Homo sapiens: one gene and its partner. The protein of the gene in region 2 interacts with the protein of the main gene of each other region in a biochemical or structural test. Each region holds a gene or a part of one and is shown on either strand. Other genes may lie near its edges.

Region 1 (7,035 bases), on a different chromosome or scaffold from region 2:
ACCAACCAGGACAGAAAACATTCAGAAACAACCACAAATAAGAAATAACAGTATAACAACAACAACAACAACAACAAAATAAATAATACAGTATAACAACTATTTTCATAGCATTTACAGTGTATGAGGCATTATAAGTAATCTAGAGATGACTGAAAGTCTGCAGGAGGATGTGTGTAGGTTATATGCAAATATGATGCCATTTCATATAAAGCACTTGGGCAGCCTCTAATTATGGTATCCAAATTATGGAACCACCACTTCTTGGAAACCAAGGGACAACTCCAGAAACGATCTGAACAGAGATCAGTGACAAGACCACCCGTGCATAACCACACCTGTGCATACTAAGTCCTGTGGTTAGCCTTGCGGAACCCACATATACAAAAAGTCAGCCCTCCGTATCTATACACAGGTTCTACATCCCGAGAATACTGTGCTTTCGATCTGTTTTGGGTTGAAAAGAAGCCATGTTATAAGTACACTCACACAGTTCAAACCCATGTTGCTCCAGGGCCAACTGTATAATACTATTCATTTCCTCTTGAGTTTCTTAGAATGTGTTTGATGACAGAAAGTCAAATGTGTTGCACTGTCTGAGGAGTTATCAGTGTACATGTATGCAACATAGAAGAGCATGTCAAGAAGGGGACGGAGGGCAAAAGGCCTAAGTGACAGTAGGGTTTCCACATTCCATCTGAAATATGCAAATACAGATTCTAAGTAGATTGTGAGAAGTTTAATACATACATTGTAACCCCCAGAACAACCACTACAAAAACTACGCAAAGAGAACAGTGTAAAAAAAAAGAAAAAGAAAAATGTAATACTAAAAATGTTCAATTTATTAAAAAGAGGAAGAATAGAAATAAAAATAGAACAAATAAAATGGTATACGTAAATCCAAAATATCAATAATTTTATTAAAGGTAAATGATCTAAACATACCATTAAAAGGCAGATTTTTCAGAACAGAGTTTTAAAAACCCCATCTAACTATAAGATCTGCAAGAAACTCATGTCAAATATAATGATACAGGTAGATTAAAAGTAAAAGGATGCAAAAGATACACCACGCAAACATTAACCAAAACAACGTGGCCAGGAGCGGTGGCTCACGCCTGTAATCCCAACACTTTCGAAGACCGAGGCGGGCGGATTGCTTGAGCTCAGGAGTTCGAGACCAGCCTGGCCAACATGGTGAAACCCCATCTCTACAAAAAATACAAAAATTAGCTGTGTGTGGTGGTGTGCACCCGTAGTCCCAGTTACTTGTGGGGCTGAGGCAGGAGGACTGCTTGAGCCCAGGAGCTCAAGGCTGCAGTGAGCCAAAATCATACCACTGCACTCCAGCCTGGGTGACAAAGTGAGACTGTCTCCGAAAAAAGAAAGAAAGCTGGAGCAGCTCTATGAATATAAGGCAAAGGAATACAGAAGGACATTACGAAAGGATAAAAAGGTCAATTCAGCAAGAAGACATCATCATCCTCAATGTATATGCATCAACAGAGCTGCAAAATACAGGAAGCGAAAATAAACAGAAATGAAAAGAGAAATAGACAAATCTAAAAATCACAGCTGGAGACTTCAACAACCTCTCTCTGAGTAATAGAACAAGTATGCAGAAAAATCGGCAATGACAGAGAAGAACTAATACCATCAACAAATTAAATCTGACATTTATAGAACGATCCACCCACCAAAACCAAAATACACACTCTTTCAGGTATACATGGAATAATTCACCAAGAAAGACCATATCCTGGCTCTAAGATAAACCTTAACAAATTTAAAAGCATTGAAACCATATTAAATATGTTCTCTGCCCATAATGGAATTAGACTAAAATTTAATAACAAAAAGATACAATAAAATCTCCAACTCTTGGAAATTAAACAATATACTTATTAAACTATATTAACCAATTATTAGTAATTATTAATTATAACTAATATATTAAACTATACTTGTTAATCTATGCTCCCAAGAGGAAGTCTTACAAAAAACTTTTTGATCTGAATGAAAACGAAAACTCACACATTAAAATTTGCTGGGTGCAGCTAAAGTAGTACATAAAGGGAAATTTATAGCATTAAATTATTAGAAAAGAAGAGGCCAGGTGCAGTGGCTCACGTCTATAATCCCAGCACTTCGGGAAGCCAAGGCAGGCAGATTCACCTGAGCTCAGGAATTCGAGACCAGCCTGGGCAACATGACGAAACAAAAAATACAAAAATTAGCCAGGCACGGTGGTGGGCGCCTGTGGTCCCAGCTACTTCAGGAGGCTGAGGCAGGAGAATCCCTTGAGCCTGGGAGGTGGAGGCTGCAGTGAGCAGAGATCGCACTACTGCACTACTACAGCCTGGGCGACAGAGCGAGACCCAGTCTCAAAAAAAGAGAAAAGAGGCCAGGCGCGGTAGCTCAGGCCTGTAATCCCAGCACTCTGGGAGGCCGAGGTGGGCAGATCATGAGGTCAAGAGATTGAGACCATCCTGGCCAACATGGTGAAACCTCGTCTCTACTAAAAATACAAAAATTAGCCAAGCGCGGTGGCACACGCCTGTAATCCCAGCTATTGAGGAGGTGGAGGCAGGAGAATTGCTTGAACGCGGGAGGCGGAGGTTGCAGTGAGCCGATATCACGCCACTGCCCTCCAACCTGGCGACAGAGTGAGACGTCTCAAAAAAAAAAAAAAAGGAGAAAAGAAGTAAGGTCTCGAATTCTAAGCTTTTCTAGAAAAAGCAAAATAAATTCAAAGCAAGGAGAAGGAAGGAAATAATAAAGACAAAGCAGAAATCAACGAAAGAGAAAAGAAAAAAAAATCCATGAAAACAAAAGCAATTTTTTGGAAAGATCAACAAATCTACATAATCTCTTCCAAACACTATCAGAGAAGGAAATACTTCCCAACTCATTTTATGAGACCAGCATTAATTACTCTGATAACAAAACCAAAGACAGTGCCAGCAAACAAACAAAACCCAAACCAACCAAAAAAACCTAGGTGGAGCCCTGAATGTTTATTCCTCAAAGCTGGAGAGCAGGAGCCTCTCAGACAGGGTCTCACTCTGCCATCCCGGCTGCAGTGCAGTGACACAATCATAGCTCACTGCACTCTCAAACTCCTGGGTTTAAGCGATCCTCCTGCCTCAGCCTCCTGAGCAGGTGAGACTATAGGTGCGGGCCACCACAACTGGCCAATTTTTTAAAAATCGGTTCTTATTATGCTGCCTAGACCAGTCTCACCTCCTGGCCTTAAGCGATCCTCCTGCCTCAGCTTTCCAAAATGTTAGGATTATGGGAATGAGCTACTGTGCCCAGCCTTCAGTGCTTGTTTACAGTATGACGGATCAGGCTGGAGGGAACCCTGTCGCACTAATTGCAAGTAAGCATCATTACCCGCTACTTTTGTCTCAAGAACACTGTGCACTGAGGAAGGACATCGCAAGTGCTAAAAGTCGAATGCGATGCCAGGCTGCAGATTGTAAAGGTGCATGCAAGAGGTGGCAGGGCTCAGTGGTGAAAAGTTCTGTGCTCGGTCCAGGAGACTTGGGTCAAGCCCTAGCACTGCTACTCACTGGGGCCAGACCCTGTGCAAAGTTTACCTACTCTGAGCCTCAGGGTCCTCTCCATGAAGATGGTGACAACCACCCCCACATGGGGAAGCAAAACAAGACTCAATGTATAATAAAGGTGCTGGCACCCACAGACTGTTCACCAGCCTTTACTACTTTACACGGTAAGTGCTGGTTAAGTATTTGCTGAACTGACAAATAGTAATATAACCAAGAAACAATTGCTGCCCAATCCCATGAACACTCAGTTAAAAGTTTGGAGCCAAGATACTTCAACTGCTTAAAAACTACACAACTTCAAAACCAGCTCATTAAAAAAGAAAGCAGGAGTGGGAGGAAACCCTCAGTCCTCGGCCTGAACGCTTGGTGGCTGTCGCTTCAAGGCATGCTGCATGAGACGCATAAGCAAACGAATTTCAGATCATCAGAAAGATCTTCCTCATTTTCTTCTGGCCCTGACCCACCTTCCGACTTTCTCCTTGACACTAACTTCCTTGTCAAAGCCTCGCGTCCATTAAGCATGTCTGGTATTTGATCTCTGTACCTTCCATCCCATAACTAGAGTGCCCTTGTCACAGATCTTCATCTTTTGCAATTCTGTCTTCTAAAGTCAGAAAAACATAACATCCTCCACAAAGACTTGTGCAAGGGGCCCATACTCTGCGGCCCCAGGGAGTTTTCTCCACAGGCTGCTTCCACTGGGACTGCGTCCCTCTCACTACTCCAGCTACCCCCAGGCTTTCAGGAAGTGGGGACAGCGTGCTCCCTAGCTCCTAACCGCACTGCTCACCGAGCACAGTTGACAGTTCCGTCCCACCTATACATTACCCCATCCATGGAGAAATGCAGCGATAATCCAAGTTCACAGAGACGGTGGAGAAAGGGCTATGTGGATGCATTGAAAACAAAACACAAACCCGAGGGGCCAGGTGATCCCTTCTCCCTTCCACTCTTACTAGAAAACGGCAGCGTGTTTTCTCAGGCTCCCTGAGCTCAGAGGCTCCTGAGTTCGAGATCTGCCTAGGAACCACCTGGGGAATGAAAAGAGAAAGACGGCCTCCTGGCCCCTCGCAGAATCAGGTTCAAGAGGTCAGGCTGAGCTCAGGAGGCTGCTTTTTTTTTTTTTTTTCTGAGACAGGTCTCACTCTGTCACCCAGGCTGGAGTGCAGTGGTGCAATCTTGGCTCACTGCAACCTCTGCCTCCCAGGTTCAAGCAATTCTCATGCCTCAGCCTCCCAAGTAGCTGGGCCTGCAGTCTTGCCTACCGTGACTGGCTAATTTTTATATTTTTAGTAGAGATGGGGTTTCGCCATGTTGCCCAGGCTGGTCTTGAATTCCCGACGTCAGGTGATCCGCCCACCTTGGCCTCCCAAAGTGCTGGGATTACAGGCATAAGCCACCGCGCCTGGCCTTACTTTTCATTTTTTAAACATCCACTTCCCCGCCATATATGCTATAGCTCAAATGCGGGTGATTTAACGATTTTTAAAGAAACATCATAAAAACCAAAGTGAACAGAACACAGAGGAACAAGGCATAAAGTGACGTTCAACAGACGCAGCTCCTGGGGGAGGAGGTGGAACAGTGCTTGGACCCGCCATAGCCACGGACCCATGAGGGATGGTGCCACGCAGGGGCTGAGACCAAGGTCTGGGTTCCCAGAATGGAGCAAAAGGGAGGGCAAGCAATGTGAAGGAGACGGCGAGGACTCCTGCGCCTTCTAGAAGGTGAGGGGACCCCATTTTCATGTCCCACCACTGAGCTCTCCCAACAATCCAGCTGATGCAAGCAGCAAATTCAAGGGCTACAAAGACTAGTATGAAAAGAACTTTTTTTTTTTTTTTAAAGCATGCTTGAATTATCCGCTGTTACATTTTTAAAGGAGCCTAAATCCATGCCCACTCAGCAGTGCACACTAAGCTGCCTGCTCCAAAGCAGGGAAAGAGGACAGGTCAGGGGACAGAGCAGAAGGACCACAGACGCTCCTGCTGTGTGTCACACCCTCCAGACACCCACCGCAGGGCTTCTGGTTGGCCCCTCTCCTGAGCTGTCTCCAGGGCTGCACGCCAGCCATGGTTCCAGGCTTGTACCCAAGTGGTGGGTCCTACTGCCAATTGTCAGGCTCTAAAAATTGGAGGCCAAGCGCAGTGGCTCATGCCTGTAATCCCAAAACTTTGAGAGGCTGAGGTGGGAGGATGGCTTGAGCCCAGGAGTTTGAGAGCAGCCTAGGCAACATAGCAAGACCGTGTGTCTACAAAAATTAAAAACAAAACAAAACAAAAAAAACACCAAAACCTTAGCCAGCCATGGTGGCATGAACCTGTGGGCCCAGCTATTATGGAAGGTGGGAGGATCACTTGAGCCCAGGAGTTCAAGGCTGCAGTGAGCTGCAACTGTACCACTGCATTCCAGCCTGGGCCACAGAGCAAGGCTGTCTCAAAAGAAAAATAAAAAAGTAAAACAGTAAAAATTTGGTGTGTAAAGGGTGACTAATTCAGGAAGACTCCATTAGAAGACCCAGGAAGAGCATTCGGGTCTCTTTCTCTTAATTTAATACGAACTCCCTGAGCAAATGACATTTCTGCATATTCTTAGAACTCTAACCAACCCCAAATTACTTTTTGTGAGTAATCACAATCTGCTGCCTCAAAATGGCAACTAGAAAACAGACCACACTCAATTTCCTAGCACATTTTGGAATCCTTATATGGATGTGTATAGAAAATGATTTAGAGGGAACAGATACCTGGTCAAACAGGTAGACTGTGACATCATCGAAAAACGTGACTGCCTTCTTTTCCTTCTTCCAGTCCTCGGGCAGTGGGTCGGGGGCATTGGCCGCTGTGGGCTTCAACAGACTCCGCAGGTGCCTTCCGTCCTCGTTGCTGAGGATGATGGGCACGGGGTGCTCGGTCTCGTCCTCCGACTCGGAGCTGAGGCTATGCAGGTTGAAGGCCCGCAGGTCCTCGTCCGAGTCGTCGCTGTTTTCGTCCTCCTCGTCTGCATCCATCCCGTCCTCTGAGAGGTCGAGCATCCCTGACACCCCGAGTTTCCCCAGGTACTTCCCTTCGATGTCCGGCTCCTTCAACTTCGGGCCCTCGGAGTGGCTGGACAGGGACTTGTCCAGCGCAGAATTGGTGTAGGCAAGGAGTTCGTTCGTGTTGGTCCCCGTGGAAGCGAGGGTGCAGGGGCGATCGTCCTGTGTCTCGAAGTCATCGCCGCTGCTAAGTTCTGCATTCAGCACACTCCAGGGACTGCTGGCCTCGTCTTCCGTGGGATGCACCTGCTGGGGAACACCAGTCTGTGCTGGCTCCGGCGTGGCTCTTAATTCCAGGTCACTGGAGTTGTGCAAAGCAGACAGACAACTTTCATCTGGCTGGCTCTTTCTGGCTTCCAGGCAGCTATCCTGGGCAGCAGGACTTTGCTCGGGGAGGACTGGCTCGGGTAGGGGCTGCTCCTG
Region 2 (7,000 bases):
CATTATCTAAAGAAATCTAAGTTTTTGAAAGTTTTTAAGATCTATAGAAATGACCGGATCTATAGAAACGGCCGGGCGCTGTGGCTCACTCCTGTAATCCCAGCACTTTGGGAGACTGAGGCGGGTGGCTCAGCTGAGGTCAGGAGTTCGAGACCAGCCTGGCCAACATGGTGAAACCCCGTCTCCACTAAAAATATAAAAATTAGCCGGGCATGGTGGCACATGCCTGTGATCCCAGCTACTCAGGAGGCTGAGACATTAGAATCGCTTGAACCTGGGAGGGGGAGATTGCAGTGAGCTGAGATCATGCCACTGCACTCCAGCGTGGGCAACAGGGTGAGACTACATCTCAAAAAAAAAAAAAGATCTATACAAACATGTATTTATACATTTTTACTATTTGTATAATCGTTAAAAATTAACAATTTTAACTAATATTAACTAATCACCTCCGAATGAAGCTAGTTAAAAAGCTGAAACAGGCCAGGCGCGGTGGCTCACGCCTGTAATCCCAACACTCTGGGAGGCCGAGTCGGGCAGATCACGAGGTCAGGAGAGCAAGACCATCCTGGCTAACACAGTGAAACCCCATCTCTACTAAATAAGAAAAATTAGCTGGGCGTGGTGGCGGGAGCCTGTAGTCCCAGCTACTTGGGAGGCTGAGGCAGGAGAATGGCGTGAACCCAGGAGGCGGAGCTTGCAGTGAGCTGAGATGGCAACACTGCACTCCAGCCTGGGTGACAGAGCGAGACTCCATCTCAAACAAACAAACAAACAAAAAGCTGAAACAGTCATTACAATCTAATTTAGGTGCGAAATTTAACACTGCATTGTCTTCTCCATACAATGCTATAAGCCCCAAATAAGCTTTAAAAAAAAGTCAATGAAGAGATTCTGGTAACATATTTCACTTCCCTCTACCACATACTGCCTGGTTAACCCAAGCAAATTGTCGTTAATCTTGTTGAAGCCCTCCCTAACCAAAAGATAAAGAAAAAGTTTAAGCTAGTAGTTCTCTAATTCCAGTTTGCACATAAATCAAAAGGGAAGCTTGCCAACATAGTGAAACCCCGTGTCTACTAAAAATACAAAAATTGGCTGGGCATGGTGGCACGTGCCTGTAGTCCCAGCTACTCGGGAAGCTGAGGCAGGAGAATTGCTTGAACCTGGGAGGCAGAAGGTGTGGTGAGCCAAGATCGCGCTACTGCACTCCAGCCTGGGCAACAGAACGAGACTCCATCTCAAAAAAAAAAAAAAAAAAAAAAAGCCAACTTCAAGATTCCAACCAAATCACTAATATATTGCTCTTCTTGCTTTTCGATGAAAATTCCACATTAAACATGACAAAAAAAAACACAGTAACAACAATAATAATGAATGTACACTATGTGCTAGCCAGTGTGATCTGTGTTTTACATGTATTATTATCTAATTCAATCCTCATAAGAACCACACCAGGTAGGTAATATTGTTACTTCCATTTTATAGATGAGAAAACTGAAGCCTAGAGAAATGAAATAATTTGACCAAGTTAATGAGTGACAAAACCAGGATTGCCTCAGGTCTGCCTATCCTCTTACCCAGGAGCTGGACAAGAAAGCACTGTGCTTAAACGCAACTCTGGAACCCCAGGGCTGTCAGAGAGAGGATTAAGCCTGACGACCAAGTAGTTAGGCAAGTAATACCCTCCCATCTCCTTCCAACCCCAATTCCCACCCCTCACCCAACAAGCTATCCTGACTCCCCACACCCATCACTCCCACACCAAGGTCGCCCACCTCTGTGATGTGTCACACATCCTAGCAGAACATCAGAAGTCTGTCTCTATGTGTGTGTGTGTATATATATGTGTATACATATATATACACACACACACACAGACTTCTGATGTTCTATATGTATATGTATATATGTTCTATATGTATATGTGTGTGTATACATACACACACATATATTGTGTATATGTCTATATACATATATACACACACATATGTATGTATGTCTATATATGTATATGTATATATGTCTATATACATATATACACAATATATGTGTGTATATATGTGTGTATATACATACACACACACAACACACATAAGTACTCTTGTATATACATATATACACATATATACACAATACATATTGCGTATACATATATATACACACTATATATGTGTGTATACATATATACACATATATACACACTATATATGTGTGTATACATATATACACACTATATATGTGTGTATACATATATACACACTATATATGTGTGTATACATATATACACATATATACACACTATATATGGTGTGTATATATATGTGTATATATATATATATATACACACACAACACACATAAGTACTCTTTCCACATTAGTATCTACTACCTGCTTAGTACTAGCAGAGACCCAAATTCCAGCACCACCAAATAAGCTTGAGCAAATTTAACATCTCTGCCCCTCAGTTTCCTAATCTGTAAAATGAAGGTCATAACACCAGCACCACTGAGGTGACACAGTGATTGAGCTAATGTATACAAAAATACTCACTTGGCATAATATCTGACATGGTAGTAAAAGCTCAATAAACAATAGCTGCTATTGGCCAGGCACAGTGGCTCATGCCTGTAATCTCAGCAGTTTGGGAGGCGAAGGCGGGCAGATCACCTGAAGTCAGAAGTTCGAGACCAGCCTGGCCAACATGGTGAAACCCCACCTCTACTACAAATACAAAAATTAGCCAGGCATGGTCGTGAGCACCTGTAATCCCGGCTACTCAGGAGGCTGAGGCAGGGGAATCGCTTGAACCCGAGAGGCGGAAGTTGCAGTGAGCCAAGATTGCACCACTGCACTCCAGCCTGGGTGACAGAGCGAGACTCCGTCTCAAAAAAAAAGAAAAAACAATAGCTGCTATTAAAATTATACTTTGCTAACCTCTTCTCTTACAACACCAACATATCAGTCCTAGTCCCATTTGTTTTTTGCTTGCTTGTTGTTTTTTTTTTTTGAGACAGAATCTGGCTATGTTGCCTAGGCTGGCCTCAAACACCTGGGCTCAAGCATTCCTCCTGCCTCAGCCGCCTGAGTAGCTAGGACTACAGGTAAGCATCACCGTGTCCAATTCTAGTTCCCATTTATTTTCTCTCAGTTTTCTTTGCTAAAAGTGTGATAAATGATGGAACATACTTATATTTATCAAAGCAGGTTGGTAACAGCGCCATAACCCAATAGTCTGGGAGTCTTCGACAGATAGGTCAGAAATATTCCAGAGCAAGTAAGTCATGCAGTAGCCTTTAAATTGCACAATTTTGACAACTGCCTATTTCCCAACTTTAGGGTCAGCCCTGTTGATTACATCCTAGTATGAAGAGTCTATAATTAACTTAATTCAAAACAACAATAAAATGTCAGTACAGGGGCTTGGTCTTAATTTAATCACTGTATCCCTAGAACTTAGAATAGTGCCTGGTCCGTGGTAGACACTACAGTACGTTTTAAATAAATGAAGACATAAAGGAACCAACACAGACGCACACACAGTTCTTTAGTGAGTCTTTACAAAGACAGTTGTAACTATCGGATCACTACCAATGCACAAAGTAATAAAAGTTATTTTCAAAATTCCCCCAGAACATTTTTCTCCTTCCTTTTTTTAACTAATTGTTCTTTAAAAATTCTCCAACTAGAAAAGCTAATTACCAATTTCAGTCTAGCAATCTATTTAAAATGTTAAAGTAGTTCCATAATGATGCATCATGCTCATCTTCTATCTTCCATTAAAAAATAACCTGTAACAATTTAATAATCACCATTTTAGTGACCCTAATTTTTCAGAACTTCCTGAACCACCTGACTTGAAGCCATAATGTGAGGTTAAATACATAAGCAATAGGGGGAAAGTGGAGGACTTACTACTTTGGGACTACACAGAGATGATGCTTCTAAGTAGCCACATTGACCTTGAACAAGTTACTTAATTTTAAGTAATGTATTTATTTATTTAGAGACGGGATCTTGCTCTGTCACCCAGACTGGAGTGCAGTGGTGCAATCACAGCTCACTGCAGCCTTGACCTCTTGGGCTCAGGAGATCCTCCAACCTCAGCCTCCTACACAGCTAGCACTATAGGCGTGCACCACCACACCCAGCTAATTTTTGTATAATATTTTTTGTGAAAGGGTTTCACCATGTTGCCCAGGCTGTTCTCAAACTCCTGGGCTAAAGTGATCCTCCCAACCTCAGCCTCCCAAAGTGCTGGGATTACCGGCATGAGCCACCACATGCAGCCAGTATTTTTAATTTTTTGAGTCTCCATTTCCTTACCTGTAGAAAAGGAATAAATTTACTAAATCTACTTCATCAAGTTGTTTTAAGGACCAAATGCATACAAAAATATTTTAAAGCAATAAAATGCCATCCAAATATAAGTTATTAGCTTTTGACGTATATGTCTTTGGATTTCAAATGGATGGTTTCTATTTATTTTTTCATATCTCTGCAACTCTTCCTATTTCCTGGATCCAAAGATATGCCAGCACAGGGAGGAATCAGTTCACACTTGTCATATCTAAAACACAGTGGGCCCTCAGTAAATATCTGTTGAAAAAGATGTTCATCCACATAGATCAGAAATCAAAAAATTCTGCCACAGAAAATATATTACCTTGTAAAGGTTAGTCAGCGGCTTACTTTTTTTTTTTTTTTTTTTTTTTTTTTGAGACGGAGTCTCACTCAATCGTCCAGGCTGGACTGCAGTGGCCCAATCTCAGTGCACTGCAACTTCCACCTGCCAGGTTCAAGTGATTCTCATGCCTTGGCCTCCCAAGTAGCTGGGATTACAGGCACCCACCACCACACCCAGCTAATTTTTGTATTTTTAGTAGAGATGGGGTTTCACCACATTGCCCAGGCTGGTCTGAACTCCTGACCTCAGGTGATCCACCCACCTTGGCCTCCCAAAATGCTGTGATTACAGGTGTGAGCCACCACGCCCCAGCCAGGTTATTTTCAAATGAAATAACAAATGACCTAACATACTCAAAAGATGACTGTGTTTTTGTCAAGAGTTTCCTTTGTGCACATTACTCAGCATCATATTTACCCCATGTGAATATACACTGAAGGAATGTGCTTTGGTGTTTTGGTTTCACTTGAGACATGCCTTCTGTATAAAAAATTATTTCCTCTCTCTTTAGCACCAGCAAGATTTCTAAAGATGCCAGATTTCTTCTTTAGGTTTTACTTTTTATGCTTCAGTACTCACAGGGAAAACTTTTGGTGGACTTATGGTCATTTCTCAAACCATTATGTCATTCTTACACTAATCAATAAGAAAAATAAGCTAATTTTTGAAAACAGTAACTAGAAAGACGTTGCAAAATATTTAAAGATTCTAGTCCACTCAAATTTGTCAAATAAAATCAGAACCATTTTAAATGAAAAGATCCTGGTTCCTCTGAACATTATATAATGCCGGCAAGGCACGGTAGCTCATGCCTGTAATCCCAGTACTTTGGGAGCCCGAGGCAGCACACTATCTGAGCTCAGGAGTTCAAGACCAGCCTGGGCAACATGGCAAAACCCCTCTCCACCAGAAACACAAAAAAGTTAGCCAGGCATGGTGACATACACCTGTGGTCCCAGCTACTCCGGAGACTGAGGTGGGAGTGTCACTTGAGCCTGGGAGATGGAGGTTGCAGTAAGCCGAGATCATGCCACTGCATGTGGCATGAATGAGACTCTGTCTCCAAAAAACATATATATATATATATATATATATACACACACACACACATATATAGATCATAGATACATGCATATAGATATAATGCCTCCAAAAGAGAACTTAAGCTTATTTAACTCTACTTCTTGATGTGTGTGTCACAGATCTATTACCAATTTATATTAGTAATATTACTAATTTATATTAGGTGGTGGTTTTGTATTTACAGTTGAATATGAATATCCTTGAGATGCACAATTCCTAATAGTTCAAAGCAAATAATGAAAAAAATCCGTAATGGTAGCCACCCAACTCAGCCTTCCTACCTTGCTTCTGCTCATTTACCCAACTACATCCTACTGCTGAAATGCATGATTCCTAGTTTGTTACCAGAAAAAATGGGCTTATTTGCTCACTGTTGTCATTTATGTCTATTGCGGCTCAAGGGATATTCCACAGACCATAGAAAAGATTTGTACTAATAGTTTCTAAGTGACAATTTAATCATAATCTAAAAACGAGTCCCCCCTCTCAAGATTAGAGAATTAATTATGTAATATTTAAAGGATAGCTACTGCATAAATAATTATCTTTTTCATTAGAGGAAAATTTTAAAGTTCTATCCCAACCAGGAACATTACAATCTAATTCTAGTTCTCACAAACCTATCAAAGTTAAACACATACATATGTTTAACAGCATACATACATGCACAATACATATAATGTCCTAGAACTATACGAGAAATGAGAAAGCAGCAGCATCAGTGTTCAAGGCTGTCAACTTGAGAATGAAGACACAAACACAGGATTCTAAATTTGTTCCAGAACTACATTCACGGCCTATCATATCTACTCCTGGATGCTTTTGTCAAACCTTGAATTACATTCTTTGACATAATACCAGTTTTGCCGGTTTAAACAGTCCACCAAGTGAACTGAAACCAAGGCAAACTGTTCTGGTGGAAAAAACAGGGGCTTCGTGGTCAAATGACTCAGGTGTGAATCCAGACTTTGCCCTTCTGGAGCAAGCATTTAATTCTTTGAGACTAGACTCCCTCATCTGTAAAAGGACAAGACCATTAGCCTAGAAAATTATTTTGTAGATCAAGCCCCTCAATCTGTGATCTGTCCAATTATGGAAGATGCCTAATAAATGTGCAACAATCTTATACTAGTAAAGGGCCAGTTCACAAATTATTATGAAATATCTCATTATGGGTATCATAATTAAACTCTATGAAACTGCAATCCCAGCACTTTGGGAGGCCAAGGC

What was found.
Region 1: the proteins of MYO6 (region 2) and LMTK2 form a complex in vitro, tested with the Homo sapiens proteins (one study listed by BioGRID).

The regions. Positions count from the first base shown.
Region 1 is NC_000007.14:98,193,859-98,200,893, reverse strand, and holds part of LMTK2 (serine/threonine-protein kinase LMTK2 precursor), read right to left. Parts: coding exon 6,322-7,035; intron 1-6,321. UniProt on the Homo sapiens protein: Phosphorylates PPP1C, phosphorylase b and CFTR.
Region 2 is NC_000006.12:75,752,239-75,759,238, reverse strand, and holds part of MYO6 (unconventional myosin-VI), read right to left. Parts: intron 1-7,000. UniProt on the Homo sapiens protein: Myosins are actin-based motor molecules with ATPase activity. Unconventional myosins serve in intracellular movements. Myosin 6 is a reverse-direction motor protein that moves towards the minus-end of actin filaments.